Regions from separate parts of the Homo sapiens genome. Here region 1 is linked to region 2. Evidence: fine-mapped expression QTL. A gene starts in region 2. The other region holds a variant in brackets. All regions are shown on one strand. Distances are between the middles of the regions. Region 1 overlaps WDFY1 (WD repeat and FYVE domain containing 1). Region 2 holds the start of MRPL44 (mitochondrial ribosomal protein L44).

Region 1 (5,387 bases), 34 kb after region 2:
AGGATTCACCATTCTAGATGTCATTGAGAACATTCATGATTCTTGAGAGAAGGTTAAACTGTCAGTATTAATAGGAATTTGGAAGAAGTTGATTCCAGCCCTCATGGATAACTTTGAGGGGTTCAAGCCTTCAGTAACTGCAGATGTGGAAATAGCAAGAGAATTAGAATTAGAAGTGGAACATATAGATGTGACTGAATTGTTGTAATCTCATGATAAAAGCTGAATGTTTAAAGAGTTTCATATGGATGAGCAAAGAAAGTGGTTTCTTGAGATGGAATCAACATCTAATGAAGATGCGGTGAACATTGTTGAAATGGCAGCAAAAGATTTAGAATATTCCATAAACTTAGGTGATGGAGGAGCAGCAGGCATTAAGAAGATTGACTCCACTTTTGAAAGAAGTTCTATTATGGGTAAAATGCTATTAAATTGCATTGCATGCTACAGAGAAGTCTTTTGGGAAAGGAAGAGTCAATCGATGCAACAAACTTCTTGGTTGTCTTATTTTAAGAAGTTGCCACAGCCACGCCAACCTTCATCAACAACCATCCTGATGGATCAGCAGCATCAACATTGAGGCAGGACCCTCCACCAGCAAAATGATTACCCCTCGCTGAAGGTTCAGATGATCGTTAACTTTTTTTTAGCAATAAAGTATTTTAAAACTAAGGTATGTACATTGATTTTTAGATGTAATGCTACTGCACACTTAACAGACTATAGTGTAACTACAGCTTGCATATGGGAAACCAAAAATTTGTGTGACTCACTTTGTTGCGACATTTGCTTTATTGTGATAAACCTGCAATATCTCTGAGGGTTATAATAATCTCTGTGTTATGCTTTTTTTTTTTTTTTTTAGGAACAAAAAAGCTGACCATTTCATAAACATTTTATTGGGGCTCCAGGACTTCATAACTATTTGTAATGATTATATAAGCTATTGAATTACTCTATCATTAACCCATTTCATTCTTTAACATATTTTCCCCATTTTTACTCCTTGGATAAAGCTTATATGAAGTTTTTTAAATTTGTAGTTCCTTTTTTATTCTATTAAATGATTTCTATAGAACCAATTTCCAAGCCTGGAATTCCTTAATCAAAGTTTATCATTAGTGTTGTTGTCATTATTATTGGGCAGGTGTATTTGTTTCTCTCTATATTGGAGCAAAATTCTTGCCAAATAGTTCTAATTTACAATTCTGACAAAGAAGTATGAGAGCCCTAGAAGTGGCATTTTGTTATTGTTTTGAGTTGTTCCTTTGCTTTCCCTGCACAGCAGTACATTTTAAAAACATTTTAATCTGAAACATTTAGCATAAAAAAGAATCAATTTTGGAATTTTATTTACTTGGAAAATAAATGAATCATCTACAGTGCTGAACAATGATAAACAAATAAAGTCATGGGGCCAGGTGCGGTGGCTCACACCTGTAATCCCAGCACTTTGGGAGGCCGAGGCGGGCAGATCACTTGAGGCCAGGAGTCCAAGACCAGCCTGGCCAACATGGTGAAACCCTGTCTGTACTAAAAATACAAAAATTAGCCAGGCATGGTGACACATGCCTGTAATCTCAGCTGCTGGGGAGGCTGAGGCATGAGAATCGCTTGAACCCAGGAGGCAGAGGTTACAGTGAGCTGAACTTGTGCCATACCGCTCCAGCCTGGGTGATGGAGTGAGACTCTGTTTAATAAATAAATAAAGTGATGGTAGTGGCGTGCATACCCTGTAAGTTATATATGTATAACATAGTCATATATGGAGATACCTTTTCTCATCTGTTCCTGGAAGATATTGCAGCTATATGCAAGTCCTTGCTTCTCTAAAAGTGCAGAGGAGATAGATGGTAGAAGCCCTCCACAGGAATGGTAGCATGGAGAAGTTTGGAAAAGATTTATTAGGCTCTGAAAGCAATGACACATTTCCTTTCTAAGGATCTTTTGGAAAAATATCAGACTATTGTTTTAAAACAACTTAAAAATAGAGCTTGGAAAAGAATGAACACGTTTCTAAGGTTGTGGTTTTAAGGAAAGATTTCTTTTCCCCAGATTGATGTGGTCCTGGAATATAAAAGAAAATCCAGCCATTAGAAAAATGGGCAGAATAAGCAGCAGGAAAAACATAAGATGAGTTTATGTGGGTGTAAAATTGTCAAAATATTAAAGGAAAACATAAGCTGTTTTATCTTAGTGGAGAGAGTGGTTTAGACATTCAATCTAGACAGAAAATATTGTGATTTATACAAAAAATAATACCATCTGATCTTGACACTTCAGTGATTAGACGGTTTATTTATTTATTTTTTTTTTTTGAGACGGAGTCTTGCTCTGTCGCCCAGGCTGGAGTGCAGTGGCGCGATCTCGGCTCACTGCAAGCTCCGCCTCCCAGGTTCATGCCATTCTCTTGCCTCAGCCTCCCGAGTAGCTGGGACTACAGGTGCCCGCCACCACGCCTGGCTAATTTTTTGTATTTTTAGTAGAGACAGGGTTTCACCATGTTAGCCAGGATGGTCTCGATCTCCTGACCTTGTGATCCACCCGCCTCGGCCTCCCAAAGTGCTGGGATTACAGTTTATTAATATTATCCTAGACTTTGAAATAGTTTGCTCCTGTAAATATTACTAAACTATTATTATGTTGCTTTCAACTTACTGAATAGTAGATTTTACTTCCAATTTACTGGATAGTAATTTTTTAGTCTGGAATTTGTTGTATTTTAAATAAGTGGCCCAACTTAAAACTATTTTTACAACCATTTGGTAAATATTCTGGACATAATACAAAATACATTCGTATATTACTCATAGAAATGAGCATCTCTGTTTAATAGGTTCTTGGGGTACAATAGTGTTAAGGGTTAAACTTTGGTTTGATTTAGTCTTGGAAGAGGAAGGGTCTGGTTTGAAAAGAGATGGAAGGGAATGCCAGATGAAGGTGTAAAGACAAAGGTAGCGCCAACCATCCAGGCCAGTTGCCTCATTTGGAACCTGATTCCCAGACAAGGAGGGCCTTCTCTCAGCTGGGATGTGACCGACAGTTTTCAAACAAAAAGCCTAAGAGATCGTGGAAGTCTTGACAATTTCCT[A/G]GTTTATTAGATGGGTCCCAGCATAGGTCCAATTTGTGCCAACCAAACTATATGCTGATGTTTGTCTTCCAAAGGAAGTAATACTGTGTTCAAAATGCTGGAATCTAAGTAGGTTCGATTTTGACTTTGGGCTAGTTTAAGTATTCTAAAGCTGTATGAAATTAACATTAGACTTTTCCAGGTTAAATACTTGGTTGGAAGAGACAACCTTTAAGATTTTCTCCTCCCAGCAGAGTTCTCTGATTTCTGAATTGTGCCCTTCTTTCCATGAGCACTGAGCAAGAGCACATGCCACTAGATCCTTTGAGCCACCTACACATTCATGACCTAAGATTGCTGGAATTGATTTGAAGAGTTTTAGAACATGTCAGCATTCTGTTCTTCCTTTGACCTAAGAAACCCGAACACACAGGCAGCTGGCAGGTTTACTTTGTGATTGTACGAATGAAGCCTGTGAGTGTGAAGTGCTGCTGCATGAATCCTTGATCTCCAGGTGCCTTGGCCTTTGTCACTGTGTGTTTGGAGGTGGAGGAGAATCCTTGAACAGAGTTAATGCTTAGCAGGAAGTTGGCCTCTTGTTTATTTCAATGGTTTTGGCTTCATCCCCTATGTCGGAATGTATCCATAAACATTCTGATTTAAGTAATATGGAATATAGTCAACTCACTGCAATAATATATTGGCTGTTCATGTTTAAGGATCATCATTGGATAGAAGCATCCACTGATTCTTTTAGATGAAGAAGTTATGCTGAAATGGCATCCATCCTGTGATCTGCTCAGAAAACACTGTCTGGAGAGAAGAGTTCTTGGTAGGGTGGGGAGGAAGGTGGATTTAGGGCATAACCTGAGCTGGACGTATTCAGGGAATGTGAGGATGACAGCTCACTGGGATGCAGGCTCTGGGATGGGGAGTCATAGGCGCTAAGGTTGTCAGTTGAATCTGGATTTGAGATAACCACTGGTGGGTTCTGAGCATAGGGGCACTGTGATCCAGGCGGCTCCTTGGGAGAGGTAGCTGGGGGTCAGCACACTGGAGGTGGAGCAGAGGGAGGCAAGAGTCCACTACTCCTGTGAGAGCAGGCCTACTGCTGTGTGAAAGATGGGACCTAGACTGTGGTAGTCACGCTGAGGATGACAAATGAGGATGGCAAACGTGATATATGGGAATTATCGTTTAATTCTTAAAAAACAAACAGCGACACCATTAACACACCCAAAGGAATGAGCAACAGCCAGGTGTGGTGGTACACGTCTGTAGTCCCAGCTGCTCAGGAGGCTGAGGTGGGAGGATCGCTTGAGCCCAGGAGTTCGAGGCTTCAGTGAGCTGTGATCACACCACTGCACTCCACCCTGGGTGACGGAGCGAAACCCTGTCAAAAAAAAAAAAATCTTTAAAATATCCTCAAATATCTATACATATCTTTTAGTTTGAATTAGGATTTAAGTAAGTCTACCTATTTTAATTGCTGGATAGACCTCTAAAATCTCTTTAATCATAGGTTTGTTCTTCCTCTCTATTTTTTTTTCCCTTGCAAATTATTTGTAGAAGAAAGTGAGTCATTTCTCTATGGAGTTTCCTGCAGTCTTGACTTTGCTGAATGGTGCTCAGTATGTTCCCATGTCCTCTGTATTTCCTATCAATTGGTTGGTGGATCTAAAGGATTAATCCAGTTGTGTTAGCCCTAAGGCTTGTTTCTATCCAGTTCACATACAGAATAGCATTAATCTCACTGTGGTGCTAGGTCATCTTATTTGTTTGGATAAATAAAGACCAACTACTAGTTTTACTTTTAATCATATATAATAGTGTGTACAGATCTTGGGTAGAGTTGGACAGGTTCTAACAAATACATATATCCATGGTTACCAACACCCGGAGCCTTGATGTTCCCCTAGAAAGTTTTCTCTCTTCTGATTGCATTCAGTCCTCCTCTTACCCCAGAAGCAACCACTATTCTGATTGTCCCTCTGGTCTCTGATCAGTTTGACTTGTATTTTTTGTCGTTGTTTTACATCAGTGATTTTAATAAAGAAAAACAGACTTCTGAGGGAAGGTAACCAGGCCCACTGGTCCGCAGTCCTGTAAACAAAGCGATGTGATGCTTAGCTGAAGGCGAGGATAGCCACTGTCGAGAGTACCTTGTCTTCCGTACGGTTCAGCCACTCTCTGTTTTAAGCAAAGATAAGCCTTGCCCATCTTTTTCCCTTGAGGAGGGATGCATCCACTGAGGCAAGGGCCAAACTCCATTTTTCACGAGATGGTTTTACTTTGAGCTCCATTTTCTCCTCAGGAT
Region 2 (5,387 bases):
CAGTGGGCATGTCTGGGTACTCGTCTTCAAGAAACTGTGTAAGGCAAGTCTGTGAAAAAGATGTCCCTTGTTCGGATAGTTCTTGATTACTTTTAAGATTCAGAAGAACAGCTTCTTTCTCTATCCCAAGTTGTTGGCGTTTGGCCTCCTCACTTTTAATATAGCAGCTATTAACAAATGCAGTTTTGAGAAGATCTAAGGAAAAGTTTTCCTGTAACCGATGTCCAAAAGCTTGTATTTCTGCATGGTAATCCCAGTTCGGCTTCTCTGAACTGAAAATGTAAAGACAGTAAGAGATGGTAAAGAGAACAACCTGTTACTGTGATATAAAAATTGTTCACTGTGTTGTAATGTTATTAATTATATAAAGGAAATGAAAGAAGGTTATATTTCTTTTTAATGCCAGGTTGATATTCTAAATGTTAAGACTAAAGTCAGATAAATACTGGCAGTCCTTTGCTATATTCTACATATATGACTGGATTAATTTTCCCTTTGATCCAATTGTCACATGAAATTGGTTCTTCAATATAAAAGACCAAGCCATTAGCCTAACTTTTAGGTTCCTTATTTCTGCTCTAACCATGATACTATGTTTTATACCTAAGTATGAAGCATAAATGTTAATTTCACAGATTCAAGCCATAAACACTAGTATGTTATATTTGCAGTCATCCCTCAATATCTGTAGGGGATTGGTTCCAAGGACTCTCCTGGATACTGAAATTCATGGATGCTCAAGTCTCTCATATAAATGGTGTAGTACAGGCACACTTCGTTTCACTGTACTTCGGTCTATTGTGCTTCACAGATTTATTGCATTTTATTTTTACAAACTGAAGGTCTGTAGCAATTCTGCATGTGCTCACTTTGTGTCTCTGTGTTACCATTTTTTAGCAATAAAGTATTTTAAATTAAGGTACATATATTGCTTTTTAGACACTACTACTGTACACTTAATAAACTACAGAATAGTATAAACATAACTTAGGTATACACTGGGAAACTAAAAAAGTCATGTGACTCGTTTTATTGTCGTGGTCTAGAACCAACCCTACAATATGTATGAGGTATACCTGTATCTGCATATAACCTATGCACATCCTCCTGTATACTTTAAGTCATCTCTGGATTACTTATACGTAACACAATATAAAACCCCTTTAAGAAACAAAGGGAAGCAAAGTATGAAAACCTAGGTTGAAAGTCGTAAGATATACATATAACATATACACCTATATAATCTGTCCAACCCATAAAGTTTCTTCCACCTTTGAGAGCCTAAAATACTTAATCTTATAATAAACAAGGGAATGGGAATTAAGAAGAGATTTTATTTTTTGCTATAATCTTCTCTGTTAGAAGACCGTTCCTACTGGTAGGAGTACAAAGTGGATCAACATTTTTTGGAGGGCAATGTTAAAGTACTAATAGCTTTCAAAATTTCATACTACACATGCGTCCCCTTTACGCGCTGTTACATAGGTTTTAATGGCAATAATATGGAGCTCATAGGCCCATATATACAGAGCCATAAAAAAGAGTGAGGTACATATCTTTGTAATACCATGACAACATGTCAAACACACATTATTAAAGAGAAAAAGCAAGATGAAGGAATTTAAATTATGTAAAGTATGATCTGGTTTGAAGCTATAAAAACCTGTGTCTCTCTCTGCCAAACCTGTTACCAGAACAGCATTAATTAGGGCAAAAATCTAAAGCTAACTTTTTTTCCTTTTACTCTAGACAGCAGAATTCAGGTTGTAGATTAATTTTTTTTCTCCTTAATTTACGATGCTGTGGGCTGCTTTCTTCCCGCTTATCGGAATTCTCAGGCATTACAAACGGGGACTACAACATCCAAGTCCACATAAGGAAGACCCTCCAGTTAGCCCCATTTCTCCCAATTTTCAGTAGCCAAAATCCTAAATGGTAGTTTCAAAACGTCGGGAACAGCCCGAAGCTCTACCGCCCGCGGCACAAATCCATTTTTTTTGCCTCAGGCCCCGCGCCCACAGCTCACGGGTGTCTCCATCGCAAACTTCCTAAGGCTTAACCCAGGGGCGCATCAGCCGCAGACACGACGCCGCGGGAAGAAGACCCAGTGTCTGCGACCGCCACCCTGAGACCTCTTCCCGAGGTGGCTCCTACCGGCGCACGGGCGGCGGCGGGCACCGCAGAAGGCGCTGCCGCTCTAACTCCTTCTGGAAGCGGAAGGCGGCGCGGAATCCCTTCTTCACTCCCCGAACCGGAGGGACCAGCTTGGGGGCGACTGGAGCCAGGAGGCAGCGATGTCCCTGCTGCAGCAATCTTACCAGCCCGGACGCCATTGCACGAGAGAAAACGATGGAAGACGGAACGAAAGTAGTCGGGCCAGTGTCCCCGTAACACACTTCCCCCGGAACCCGGAACGCGGAACGCGAAGAGAAGGCTGGGGCGGAGACAGCCCCCGGGGCGGGGCGACTGAGAGAGGGCAGGGGCGGAGACAGCCCCGGGGCGGGGTGATTGCGGCCGCCTTGAGGCTACGCTTGCGCTAGTTCTCTCCTCTCTTCGAGTTACTTTCCAATGATCCGGACTTGAGGGCGTTTGCGCCCAAAAGTTTCTGGGAGAAGTTGCTTCACCCTGTCACTCTCTTGTTCCTTCCTCTCTCGTTACAGCAAAACAAACAAAAATCTGTTTCGCTTTCAGGTTAAGGAAACATTTAAATCCTCAAAAAAAGAAAACATTTTTAATTTATATTTAGTGTTCTAGGCCACTACTGAGCAAGTATTTACCGAGCTTCTATTTTTGACCCAGCACGCCTCCAAAAGCCTTAGTTTTGGAAACCCTAGACTCAGAAATGTTGGCTTATCCAAAATTAAAATTTTTCTTTAAAAGCAATCTAATAGTACATATTTTTAAACATCCGGAAAATGACTGGAAAAAAACATAAAACGGTAATAGGGGAATTACAGTTTCTTCCTTCTTTATGTTAACACTCTTTAACAATGTAATTCTATTGCTTTCCTACCAAACTGTTAATACAGTACAATTTTTAAAAGAACATATTAAGTCACAAAGGGAGGCTTGTTTGAATTCCCAGTTTTGAGTTGCCTGCTGAACATCTAGACCCTCAAAGGGGCAATGCTTTCTGTGATCTCTTTGTTAAAGGCATCTGTGTCCCCAGCAGTCACCCAGATTGAACTCCTATGTCTTTGATTGTTTTTGTTTCGACAAACCCCCTCTTCGGTGCAGTTTCCACCAAGTGCTTTTTCCATTTATTTCCACTGCAGGTACCTGGTGGCTCTCCTCACCTCTTTCCGTGGTTAGTGTAATTGGCCTGGTACCTTCCTCCCTTCCCCAGACACAGCTCACCTACATTCATCTCTCTGAAACACAGACCACAAAGCATGTTATGACTTAGCCCGAGAATCTTCAGTGCCAGGATCATAGAACTCAATTTGGGTTTCTCAGCTTGACCATTTCAAAAGGGAGAATCTAAATGGTTCATCTCAGCTTATAAAAGGGTTCCCTTTGGGGAGGGAGAGAGCAAAAGAGGGGCTGAGCACACACCAAAAAACAAACTGATGGATTTCTGGTTGAAGGAAATTCTCCAAGAAGGGGTGAAAGGAGGTTACGATTGACCTTCTTGTTTCAATGTATGTAAAGTATTGAAAATTCATGGAACATCAATCCAATAAATGGATTAGGAGAAAATGCAGGGAACTGTCATTTCTGTAGAATTTCATTTATTAGGAAAAATAATCTAAGCCAGTTGTAGCACAATCATGTTAAGTTAAAATGAGGTGTCTCTGTGTTGAGAGTTTCTCAGTCATACAACAACGAGAGCATCATTTGCAGATTAAAAAAATGTAGGTCCTCAAAAGATTTCTTCTACTAATGCCCTTCATGGAACTTAGGAATTAACCAGTTTTTTAAAATCTGCTCATACATTTGTCTATTTATTCAATAAACACATAATAGGAGGAGGACTTGGTTCCAGGATCCAGGCTCAGAAAACTTTAAGGAAGAAAAAGGCCAATGTGTTTTTCAGCCCTCAAAAACCTGATTTTTCCTTTAACCTGCTGTTAGCCCTAATTTGATCAAAGCTCACAGATGTCAACAACTTTCGAGTTTTCATTGGGTTAAGGTCAGGTGGAAGGGTGGGGAAAAGTCACACTTAGGAAGAGGAGGTGAGGCGATTGAGGGTTCACTTTAACCCTTGGGGAACACAACCTTTTGTGTTTTGATGCCAGGGATATTGCTTATATATTCCTTCAATGATGGTGAAGGCAGCTGGAATACGGGGCACAGAAAGATGGATAACAAAGTTAGTAAGCTCTGCTATAGGACCTTCCTGAACAATCAAGCAATTCTGAACCACCTGGGATTACTCACCACTACTTCATAGATTAGCTAAGGAATAACTACCAAATAGTGGCCTTTAATCCAACTCACAAGGAAAATTACAGACAGAAATAATTACCATAGAATGAAAATTACTATAGTTAAAACTGTTCAAAATACAAAATTGGAGTTACTGATAAATATCGATATAGAATCAGTCTTCACCAAAGTTACATCTGTTCAACCTAGCTTTGGAAAATTTGACTTGATGGAAAATTTGACTTGATAGATCTAAAAGCTGCAACAGAAAACTCATGATAGTAAAACTGATTAGCAAAAAGCCTTAGTAAACCTGAGCAACAAATAACATCTTAGGAAATAAATGTGGAAAAAAATTCATGAAAATACATTAAGCAATAGAAACATGAAAATACAATTAGAAATAGGATACTTGTGCTGTATAGAAAATTGATCAAGAAATTTAATTGGTTTCATGGAGCTTATTCCAGAAAACATTTTCTCAAAAAAAATGCATCAATGTTAGTATAATTCTGTTATAAACACTTTAATTCATAATTATGGAAGCAAAACTTTTTTGGTGTGTTAGCGGCCAGCAAGATGGCTCTCAACAAGCCCCACCTCCTGGTACTTACACCCTTGTACATTCCCCTCTCACATTGTGCTGGGATTAGTCTGTGTAACCAATAGACCATGGATGTTTTTATCAATTCTGGGGTTAGGTAATAAAATACATCATAGCTTCCATTTTGGTCAGATACCTTGTATTTCTTGGATTAGTCTCCTGTCAGGAAGTCAGCTGCTATGTTATGATGTTGCCTAAGAAACTATGTGGAAAGGCTTATGTGATGAGTAGCTGAGGCCTCCCGCTAACAGCCATGTGAATGAATGAGCTGTCTTAGAATTGGATCCTCCACTCCCAGTCAGACTTTCAGATGACTGCCTACTGGCCAGCGCTTTGACTGCATCCTCATGAGAGACCCTCAGCCAGAATCACCCAGCTAAACTGCTCCCAAACTCCTGGCCCTCAGGAAATGTAT

The links. PIP is the estimated chance that this variant, and not a neighbour inherited with it, causes the effect.
Region 1: its variant is the best candidate, but not a certain one, in a credible set for the expression of MRPL44 in whole blood (INTERVAL, PIP 0.53).

Annotation. Positions count from the first base shown.
Region 1 is chr2:223,920,692-223,926,078 of GRCh38, reverse strand. The region is part of intron 1 of WDFY1 (WD repeat and FYVE domain containing 1); the gene reads left to right. It also overlaps the pseudogene GTF3AP3. Among named protein-coding and RNA genes, the nearest start is that of WDFY1, 22 kb to the left of the region's middle. RefSeq lists an enhancer at 3,625-4,125. The variant A/G (reference allele first, on the strand shown) is at 3,092.
Region 2 is chr2:223,954,419-223,959,805 of GRCh38, reverse strand. MRPL44 (mitochondrial ribosomal protein L44) reads right to left here and starts at 2,343. Exons shown (of 4, transcript NM_022915.5): 1 at 2,155-2,343; 2 at 1-272. The coding sequence starts at 2,333. RefSeq lists an enhancer at 2,259-2,428 and a silencer at 2,499-2,568.